Linked DNA regions of Homo sapiens: region 1 is reported to be linked to region 2. Evidence: microRNA targets listed by miRTarBase, many of them from high-throughput screens and not tested one by one. Region 2 holds a microRNA gene; the other region holds the end of a gene's coding sequence.

Evidence for each region. The annotated mature microRNA hsa-miR-3663-5p reads GCUGGUCUGCGUGGUGCUCGG and lies in region 2 at 2,197-2,217, opposite strand. An mRNA with a match to its seed (bases 2 to 7 or 8) in the 3' UTR can be bound and repressed. Matches are read on the target gene's strand: a 7mer-m8 pairs with bases 2 to 8, a 7mer-A1 pairs with bases 2 to 7 and ends in A, and an 8mer does both.
Region 1: the mRNA of NPHP1 is a reported target of hsa-miR-3663-5p. The part of its 3' UTR that is shown has no 7-base or 8-base seed match.

Annotation. Positions count from the first base shown.
Region 1 is chr2:110,119,045-110,124,117 of GRCh38, forward strand. NPHP1 (nephrocystin 1) reads right to left here. Exons shown (of 20, transcript NM_001128178.3): 20 at 4,304-5,019. The coding sequence ends at 4,747. Among named protein-coding and RNA genes, the nearest start is that of MALL, 5.8 kb to the left of the region's middle.
Region 2 is chr10:117,165,538-117,170,610 of GRCh38, forward strand. MIR3663 (microRNA 3663) reads right to left here and starts at 2,237; the gene lies at 2,141-2,237. It overlaps MIR3663HG (MIR3663 host gene), which reads right to left and starts at 3,518. Exons shown (of 3, transcript NR_121651.1): 1 at 3,323-3,518. RefSeq lists an enhancer at 56-610.

The DNA of each region.
Region 1 (5,073 bases), not on the chromosome of region 2:
TTGAGTCTGGCTTCTTGTGTCTCTGGAGTTGGGCAAGTACAGAACAGTTGCCCGGAAAGAGGAAGGACTCAATGGGATAATGTCTGGGTCATCCAGAGATTCCTACCTGGAGAAGAGCTCAGAAAGCATGGAGACCTTTTTATTCCCCAAAATGGCCTCTTCGAAAGGACACAGTTCTGCAAAGTTAATCTTTGCTGGCAAAGTCAGATACAAATGAGCAGGTTAAGGTCCAGTCTGTCTTACAGAGTATCAGAAAAGGGCTAAATGACAGGCACACTATCAAAGTCCCAAATGTGAGCTGTATTCCATTAATGAGTTCTGTTTTATATTGCTGCACACAGACCTGCACGCCTCATTCAGTATCAGTCATCACTGAGCAGAACATCCTCGACCTCCATTTTCCTGCCTATGAGACAGTATAACCTATAGACTTTCACTTGCCATTCACTTACTATTTTTCTGAGACAAGGTTTCCCTGTTGCCCAGGCTGGAGTGCAGTGGCATGATCACAGCTCACTGCAGGCTTAACCTCCTGGGCTCAAGTAATCCTCCAACTCAGCCTCCTGAGTAGCTGGAACTACAGACCTGCACCACCATACCCGGCTAATTTTTGTATAGATGGGGTCTCATCATGTTGCCTAGGCTAGTCTCGCATGCCAGGGCTCAAGCACCCTGCCTGCCTTGGCCTCCCAAAGGTGTGAGCAACTGTGCCTGGCCCATTCACTTATCTTTATACCCATCCCTCTTTATCCAAATTGACTTGGTTACTGCATTCAAATATCAGAATTCAGAGAGCAAGTTTGAGTTTTGAGGGATACAGTATTACCAAATCCACGTGTCCTTGAGTTTCAGAGAGTAAATGTGGGAGTTCAAATAGTGAGGGATTCATTTGAAAAGGTATTTGAATCTAACTGGTCCCCAACAACAGACAGTGGGGTTGGGAGAGGGAGAGTGAGGATAGGAAGGAATGCCTGTACACTTACCATTGACTTCATGCCTGCCACGGGGCCACTAACAGCCCCAACCATAGTACTGTTGGAATTAGTTTTTGTGTTTGGCTGATTACTGTCCACCTCATGCATTGTAAGGACAGAGATCTTGCCAGGACTGTTCTCACTGTATCTTCAAAGCTCAGTGCTGTGCCTGGAACATGGCAGGTGCTCAACACTTGTTGAGTAAATGATGAATGGATAATTGTAACACTTAGATGCAAAGTGCCCTAAGTAAGGTTCTTTCTCTGCCTCTTTGTTTTGAGGAAACAGATCACAGCAGCTAGGTGACAGCTGTCTTTGATCACCTCCACACCCCAAGAAAGCCTCCCAACTTAGAATGCTTCACGCAAGAGGAAGCTGAGGCAGTTCACAGCAAAGGATATCCTATAATGCTGTAAATTGACAAAGCCCTCAACTGGCAGAGGACACTGCTGGCTTCCTCTGTTAAACTGATAGTTTCCCAACTGCTACTGGGTTGGCAAGTCAAACTTGCTCCATTTGTACACAGGGTTATGTATGTCAACTGGTTTTATGTGAGTTGCTCTGGCCTTGCGCATTAGATCACAAACACTGAAGACAGAGACTATACCTGCTCTTTAATATCTGCCTCTGCCCCTAGACTTTCATTCCAAGCACCCAGGCAAGCGAGTTGCAACATTTTTCACCTCTGCAGACCTGATGGATATGACACTCAACCAATTAAGAGGTTGGGAGGGTGGGGAGGAGTGAGCCATGTAGTTCACAGTTCAGACTCCCCGCCCTGGCCGCCCTCCCATGGTTCGGGTGTGGTGAGTCCCCCTGGCCTTGGAGGTAGGCACCACACGTGTGGTCACTCGGCAAAGACCTGCTGTTCACCCTGCTGCTGCCCGCCCCCCACCACCATGACTCTTACAATTAATTCAGTGAGTTGCTAAAGTCACACTCCTTGAGACAGACCCACGAGGACTCATTTCCAGGATGTTTTTGGCTCCTTGACAACCTTTTCCGTTGTGGAAGCCAGTAAGTGGCATTTAAAGTCACAGAGATTTTGTTGTTTGAAAAAAAAAAAAAGATTCCACTGATTGAAGAGAAGGTGGAGTCTCTTAATAGCAGAAATGCCCACACCCCTGGGTCTCTCCCTTCCGTTATGTACCTCACTTTCTGGCCTAAGCTTCACTTAAGCTTTTTCTCTGGTGTCCCTATGATTTCCTAATGTGTCAGAAACTATGAAGTTGTCCATATTTGTCAGCTCATGACACATTCTCAAATGAACGTGGAAGACAGTCTTGGAAAATGCATTCTAATAAAAAGCCTTCTCTTCCTTCATGTTGTACATGCACTGAAAGAAATTCACTAGCATTTTCTTTCACTCAAAATGCCCCACCCCTGGCTTAACGCTAAGAATAAGCCAAATGCTTAAAAAAAATAAATAAAAAGATGGCCAAGCATGGTGGCTCTGAAATCCTAGCACTTTGGGAGACTGAGGCAGGAGAATTGCTTGAGTCCAAGAGTTCGAGACCACCCTGGGCAACATAGTGAGACCCTGTTTCTACAATAAAAAACACAAAAATTAGCCAAGCATGATGGCACGTGTGTGTGCTCTCAGCTACTCAGGAGGCTGAGGTAGGAGATCACCTAAGCCCGCGGAAGTTGAGGCTGTAGTGAACTGTGACTGCACCACTGCACTACAGCCTAGGTGACAGAAATAAATAAATAAATAAAAATAAATAAATAATAATAAATAATAAATGCCTCAAAAATAAATAAATAAAAATAAAAAGGTGGAGCTTAGAAATTATAAATCAATAATAAATAAATAAATGCCCAAAAAATAAATAAAAATAAAAAATAAAAAGGTGGAGCTTAGAAATTAAAAGTCATTTCTACAGAGAAATGACTTTCACAGTGAGGAGTGATATGGGCTCATGTTCTTTCAAAAACAGGACTGCAGGGGACTAAGAGTAAGAGGAGGCAACTCAGTAACAGAGTAGCAAAAAGTCTCTGTGCACACTTACCACCTCCATTTGAAAGGCAAAGCCCTCTCCCTGGGAGCAGGAGCTGGGGAGGGCCGCGGTGCTAGAGAAGTGGGGGCACCACTTTGTAAGTGTGCCCAGGCAGCTGATGGGCAAAAGGAAGGTGTTTGCCACACTCAGCCTTGTATTGTGTGGTTGAGGGCAGAAGGGCACGCACAGGGAGAGATCTCCTGAAATGAGTTCCTGGAGAATGAAATCTCTTTTCCAAGGCCCAGTTCTCACTTGTCACATTTGTGGCTGGGAACACTTTCTTTCTTTTTTTTTTTTTTTTTTTTTTTTTGAGATGGAGTTTCACTCTTGTTGCCTAGGCTGGAGTGCAATGGCACGATCTTGGCTCACTGCAACCTCCACCTCCCAGGTTCAAACAATTCTTCTACCTCAGCCTCCCAAGTAGCTGGGATTACAGGCACGCACTACCACGCCCAGCTAATTTTGTGTTTTTAGTACAGATAGTGTTGGCCAGGCTGGTCTCAAACTCCTGACCTCAGGTGATCCACCCACCTCGGCCTCCCAAAGTGTTGGGATTACAGGCGTGAGCCACCGCGCCTGGCCTGGAAACACCTTCATACCATGTTAATTTCTGAGACTGGGGCTCAAGTTAAATTTAGGTTAAGGGTTTAGGATAAGTTAGCTAAGATAGCCCAGAACTTTCATAATATGACAGATCTCTAAAAATAAATGGCTCTTTTAAGGCAGCATGCCATCAAAAAAAAGTACCTCTAATGGGATTCTAATTATTTAGGTTAAACTTTTCCTCATATTTTATTTTCACATGGAATCCTAAAAGGTTCGCCCCGATAAGGCAGAACATCTTAGGTTGTAGAAAATTATACATGGTATCTTTACTGGGAATATTAGCTGTGCCACTTATTAGCTGTGACCTTAGGCAAATTACTTCACTTATCTGGCCTGTTTCTTCGGCGGTAATAAAAAACAACAGTACCTATCTCCTACAGTAGGTGTGAGGATTAACTGGGCTAATGAGAAATGCTCAGACACACAGTAGGTGCTCAATTAACGCAGGCTGCTACTGTTTATCACTAAAAGGAAAGGCTTGGGACATTATTTTACCAGCAGTCACAGGTTTATCTGAGATGCAACAAGGCCTGAAAGGGTGAGTCGACTCCACTCTCCAGTGCCTGAAAGTTTCTTTTTGTGCTTTTGACAGAGCACTTATTTTCTTGATTTGAAAAGGCAAAAGCGACTCTGTTTTTGTACTTAATTAGGGGTAAATCACATTCAAGTATCAGACTGAATTAAGTGATACAACTTTCTCAAATGGATCACTTTAACTTCCTCTTCATTGAACAAGATAAATTTTATTAACACTCATAAATTTAAATATTTTGGATACTAGACCTTTATCAGTTAGATGATTTGCAAATATGTTTTCCCATTCTGTAGGTTGTTTTTTTCACTTTCTTGAATAATCATAAATTTAGTTTTTGACAAAATCTTGCTTTTATAGAAATCTATACCATTAACTTAAGTAGCTGTTTTTGAAAAAATAAATACTGTTTAAATTTAGATATAACAGTATTCCTTATAAAAATTTATTTTATGGTTTTAAAAAATATTTAAATTATTGTATAAACATTTCTTTAAAAATATGGTCTGTAGAAAGAAAAGAGTAAAACCTAAGTTGTAAAGTGACAGTGATTTTTGGTTCCATCATTTTATTCACGTAATCGTGGAGGATCCATCTGATTCCGTGGGAAGCTGAGGGCTAGAGGCTGCCACTGTCACACTGCATTCTTTCTCATTTCACCCAAGAAGTCATAGGTCTGCTCTGAAAGGTCAAAAGGTTCATGAACTCCGTCTGGTGACAGCAGAGCTTGGAGGGCGCCCTGGTTTTCTTGGTTTTGCTTAAGGAAGTCAGTGATAACTTTCCACCGTGCAGTCTCAGTCTCTTCTTCTGCCCACCTGAATGGGGGTAGGCGTGTGGAGTGGAGAAGTGGGAGCACGCAGTCATGGTAAACCAGGAGAAACGTGGACTTCAGGAACTCTTTGTCTCTCTGGGAAAACACCACCCCCACAAATAACATTGTTATTTTTAAAGTGTTAAATTC
Region 2 (5,073 bases):
TCCAGCGCTTTTTTTTTTCCTCTCAAAGGCGGCGCCTGCATTTTTGGGGGCTCCAGCCCAGGCTGAGAAAGTCCCCTCAAACCTCTACTCTGAGGTTGCTCACACGGCCTGCAAAAACCCGACGGGGCACCCCGCCACCCCACCTTACGTTTCCCTAGGGCCAAGTCAGTGGTCAAAAACCAACCCGGTGGTAGCTGCCTTTACCAAGGAAAGACAGCCAGGACGCCCGCACCGACGGCAACGCGCGGACAGAGAGGACCGTGCCCTCTTTCGCATGTTACGGGGCGAGGGGGCTGTTGGCGTCAGGAGCGCCCTGGGAGGAACTTCGTAGCGGATTCGAGAGACAGAGGGAATTCAGCAAACTTGCTGCCCCGGGCTGCCGGCTGGAGCCCGGCAGATTCGCTGCGCAGCACTGCCCCCTGGTATCCAGCGCCGAAAGTGCCCCCCTCCGCAGCTGCAAGGCTCCTCCCTGGGCTGCGCGGGACAGATTTTTTCTCCTTTCCTGGCTACACGCCTAACAGAGAAGCTATCCCGAGGGACCTCAAGAAGTCCCCCCAAGCCGTACTCAAAAGCCTTTCTCCCTCCTCCTCAAGCGCTCACTTCCCCAAAGAGGACCCGGACCCCTGACTGCCTGAGCCAGGTCCCCAGCATGGTCCGCAACCCTTCTCGACTCCGGCATCCACCTCCAGGCTGACGTCTACCCGGGAGGGGGCTGGGGACCCAAGGAGACTTCGACTACAGGCCCAGGCGAACGGAAGGAAGAGGCTTGCGTTCAGAGAGACACGTTTGGAGCTGGGACTGTTCATTCTTTAAGGAACACCAGCTTCCAGGGCATCTTTCGTTGGCACCTTGGCTTTCCAGAGAAGAAAGGAAGTGGGTATCAGGGCCAGCCCCTCCTCGCACCCCAGGCTGGAGAGGTGCCGAGGTGCTTAGTCACTCAGTCCAAGGGCACCTGAGAGATGGGGGCAAACTTGGCAGGAGCTTGAGCACGGAGGCGTGATCCGCGGGGGGCGCAGGCAGGGCGGGGCCCAGAGCCCCCTTCCGCCAGCCCAGCCTGCCCCTTCCAACCCAACTTGTCTGGCACTGGCTTCTACGGGTGCCGAGAAGACTGCTGTCGTGGGCACAGGGTCCTCGACCCCAGGACGTGCGTGGCCTTTCCCACCCCAACCGGATGGTTTGTCCCAGGCTTTGAGACTGAGCTTGATAGAGAGGTAGGAAGGAAGCGGCGCCAGCTCCGGAGCCAGAGTGGGTTGGAGTCCCAGCTTGGCCACCCTCTAGCTGTGTGACCTTGAGTGAGTTACTTCGCCTCTCTGAGCACCAGTTTCTTTGTTTTTTTTTTTTTCAGGAATGGTGTGAGGATTGAGGTAATGTCCTTAGGATGCCCACATGTGTTCAGTCAAGGTCGGTCGTGATGGTTGCCGGCGTCCGCTGCAGGAAAGGCCCCCAGGAATCAGCTTGTAGGGTGGGCGCCAGCCGGTACTGCACAGGGGCATCGCGGCCTCCGGTTTTAGAAGGGGCAGAAACAGCGCAGTGTCCTCAGCCCTGAGGGCTGAGTGTTGGAGGTCCCGACGCTCCTGGGTTCTCTTCTGCCCGGGTGCAGACTACAGCAGGTGCGCAGGGCTTCGCACACCTCTGCTGTGGGAAGTGAGTCATCTTCGCTTATGATTGCATCTGGCCAGGCCAGCTACGAGAACACTGGGCCTCACAGCTGCCACGTATCCAGCCTTAACCTGTGCCAGGCACTGTGCTAAGAGCTATGCACCCACAATCCCACTTCTTCACAACAGCCTCGACCGAAGTAGATGTTTAAGTTTTTAAATTTCCATTTTACAGAGCAGGAAACAGACTCAGAGAGGTTAACTTCCCCCAAGATCACACAGCTGGTAAGTTGGAGAGCGGGGACTTGAACTGAATCTTCCTTGGAGGCCAAGCTCTGAACCACTAAGTTGGGTGGCATTAGAGAGCCAAGCTCTCGCCCTTCGGTTTCCATTCACGCTACCCTCTCTGAGCCGCAATTCTCTCTCCTGCGTTGGCACTGGCAGAAGTTGAGACACGCTCCCAGGAATCGCGGGCCGTGGCGCGTACTTCCACGCACCCCAGCTAGTTCCAGAGACTCAGCTTGTTCTGAGATCCTCTTGTCGAGCCCCCTTGGTCCCGGCGCCCGGCCTGTGTGGTGCTCAGATCAGACTTATCCACCCGAGCACCACGCAGACCAGCGCCTGGACCAAGGTCCCGGGAAGGAAGCCCTCCTCCCCTTCTCCTGTGGCTTAGCTCAGCGATCAGGGAGGAGCCAGTTAAGAAGTCACAGTCGAAGCCATGACTGCTGTGTCCCGGGGAGGCAGTGGAAGGCGAGGAGCACGGAGCGGGGATACCGCCGGACAACCCCTCCCCGCCGCCCCGTCGGCGTCCTCGCTGCGCAGGGGCTCCCTTGCTGCCCCAATCTAAAAGGAAGCCGTCGCGGCCCAGGGCACGGTAACTAAAAGGCCGTCGGGGAGGGAGACGGGAATGAGTGGGCTTGGACTTGAGGTTTCCGAGCCAGCTGCTCCCTAGAGCCGTTCCTGAGCTCGTCAGCCAGCACGTATTTAATGAATGGCCACTGGGTGCTAGGCCTTGCACGCAACCCTTTCGTCCTCCCCCGGGGCTGAGCCGAGGGTGACCCAACACTAGTCGGAACGAGCCTGGAGACATGGCGCCGGGGCTGCGCTCTGCAGGCCTGGCCTGGTCGCTCTCCACGCACCCCTCTCTCTGTAGCTGCCGCCCCGCCCGGCTCTGCCTGTGGGCGCCCCCTGGCGGCAGGAAGCCGAGCGCGCACCACGCCCTCGGGGCTCCATCCCCACTCACCCCGGCGCCTCTAGCCGCTCCACCCGCACCCCCAGTTCGCGCTGCGGCGGCCAGCCTCTTCCCCGACGGCCGACCGAATGTCCCTCAGAGCTTTCCGTGACCGGCCAGGGCGCGTGGCTGTCCGGAGCCCCTCCACGTTCCCCAGCAGCAGGCCCGGCTCTCTCTGATCAGCGAGCGCGGATGCCGGTCTCCTCCCTCCCTCTGCCGGGCTCCAGCCCGACGCCAGGCCGCTGGGGGCAAGCGCTGTGCTTTGGAAGAGGAGAAAAGCCCCAAATAAACAAAAACCCAAAGCCCATTCAAGTTCAGGGGTGGAGAACTGTTGGCATCTGAATTTTAAAAAGATCGCCGGGACTCCCAACCACCACCAAACACCCTCTTGTCCACCCCCCCCCGCCCCCGACACCATCCCACCCCACACACCCCACGCCCGCGTCCCGTGAACCGAACCGCCAATGCGCCGCAACCTTCTCGGCAGTCACACCTGTGTCCCCGATGCCATCTGCCCACGTCTGTGTGTGAAGCAAACCCCGCTGGCAGACGGGATGGAGAGAGATGGCTCCTCCAAACCAGAATTAGGAGGAAAACCCCGCTGAGGGCGTTTCAAAAACCCAACAGGCGAGCGGGGAAACCTGCATTGTCAGACCTGCTGGGCCCTGAGTTCTAGCCCCATGCACCGCGCCGAGCTAATTCTCCCGGCGACTCTCTGAGGGGTTATTACCACGTAATAATTGATGAGGACACTAAGGGCTAAGAGGAGTCAATTAACTTGTCCCTAGTTACAGAGTTGGAAGTCAGGGATGGATCTTAACTGGTGGGGCTGTTCCGAGGGCCTGTGAGAGACTGGGTTTCAGCCCAGAGCCCAACACAGCGCCGGTAGAGAAAGTATCGGGTACATTTTTGCCTGCTAATCCGGCGGTAGGAAGTCAATTACATCTTTGATGACTCAGATTTTTGAAACAGCCCCATACAACTTCCAATTACGGGGGCAAATATAATTGTGAAAGTCTATGGGATTTGGAGATGAAGGAGTAGGCCATCAAAACATAACCCAGAACTTAACTTGTTTTGGAAAAAAACATTTTATGGAAAATTTCCAACATATAGGAAAGAAAAGAGAATATTATAGTGAACTCCCATGCACCTGTCCCCAACCTCCAAATAACGAAGGCAAATCTATTTTATGGTCAATCTATTTCCTCCCCTCCTTCCCACGGACTCTGCCTCCCCAGCTGTCAAAACCTACACACACACTGCTTCCCCTATTCACACAGATTATTTGGAAGTAAAACCTGGACCTTGCCACACTTAATCTGCAAGCATTTCAGCATGTACTGTCAAGAGATGACCACATTACCAAAACTACAATAGCATCAACACAACCACAATACCAAGATATACCCACAAACTTCACATTCCTAAACACCCTGGAGTATCCAGCTGGCTGAAGCTTTATTTTAACCACAATTCCTGGCTAGAGCTTGGTTTTCACTGAGTTTCAGCTCTAGGGCCAGAATGACCTGGGTTTGGATCTTGATTTTTTTTTTTCTTTTCACTTATTAGCTGAATGACTCGGGGGCATGACTTACCTTCTCTCTGAGTGTCAGTTTAGTGCAATCTCACATGGTTGTTACAAAGATAAAAAAACAAAACAATGCATGTAAAGAGTTTGGCATAAGCCAGGGAATAGTATCTGTTATTTCTCCTAAAGCTGGACTTCGGTGAGATTTTAGCTAACGAAGGCTTGAAAATTAGGTTTGAGTTGGGGCATCAGAAGTTTTCACGTTGCATGGAGGGTAAGACTAGAGCCAGGGATGCACCACCACACCCAGTGATCATTCATGAGTTCACCCCTCCCAGGATTAACAACTGAACTCTCAGTGATGTCTTATCTTATAAGGCTCTAGTCTTATCCTCCATGCAATGTGAAACCTTTTCAGGTTCTCCAAGGATCCTCCTAGGTCCGACAGTCATCGTGGGCTTTTCTTGGGGGCAGTGCTGGTCTTTCTCCCCTGTATTCCTGCCTCTAGCATGCGGCTGGGCACACGGGGTCAGTGCTGTCTGCTGAAAGAATGGTTGATGACATCATCCCATCACGTGGCCTTTGCATAGCCAATTCCTTCTGCCTGAGACATTTATGCCTTTTCCCTTAGCTTAATTAACCCTCTCTGAATGGGTCAAATTCCCCTGGCATATGCTCTCAGAGGACCTCAGTGCACTTTCTCTTCAGAGGGT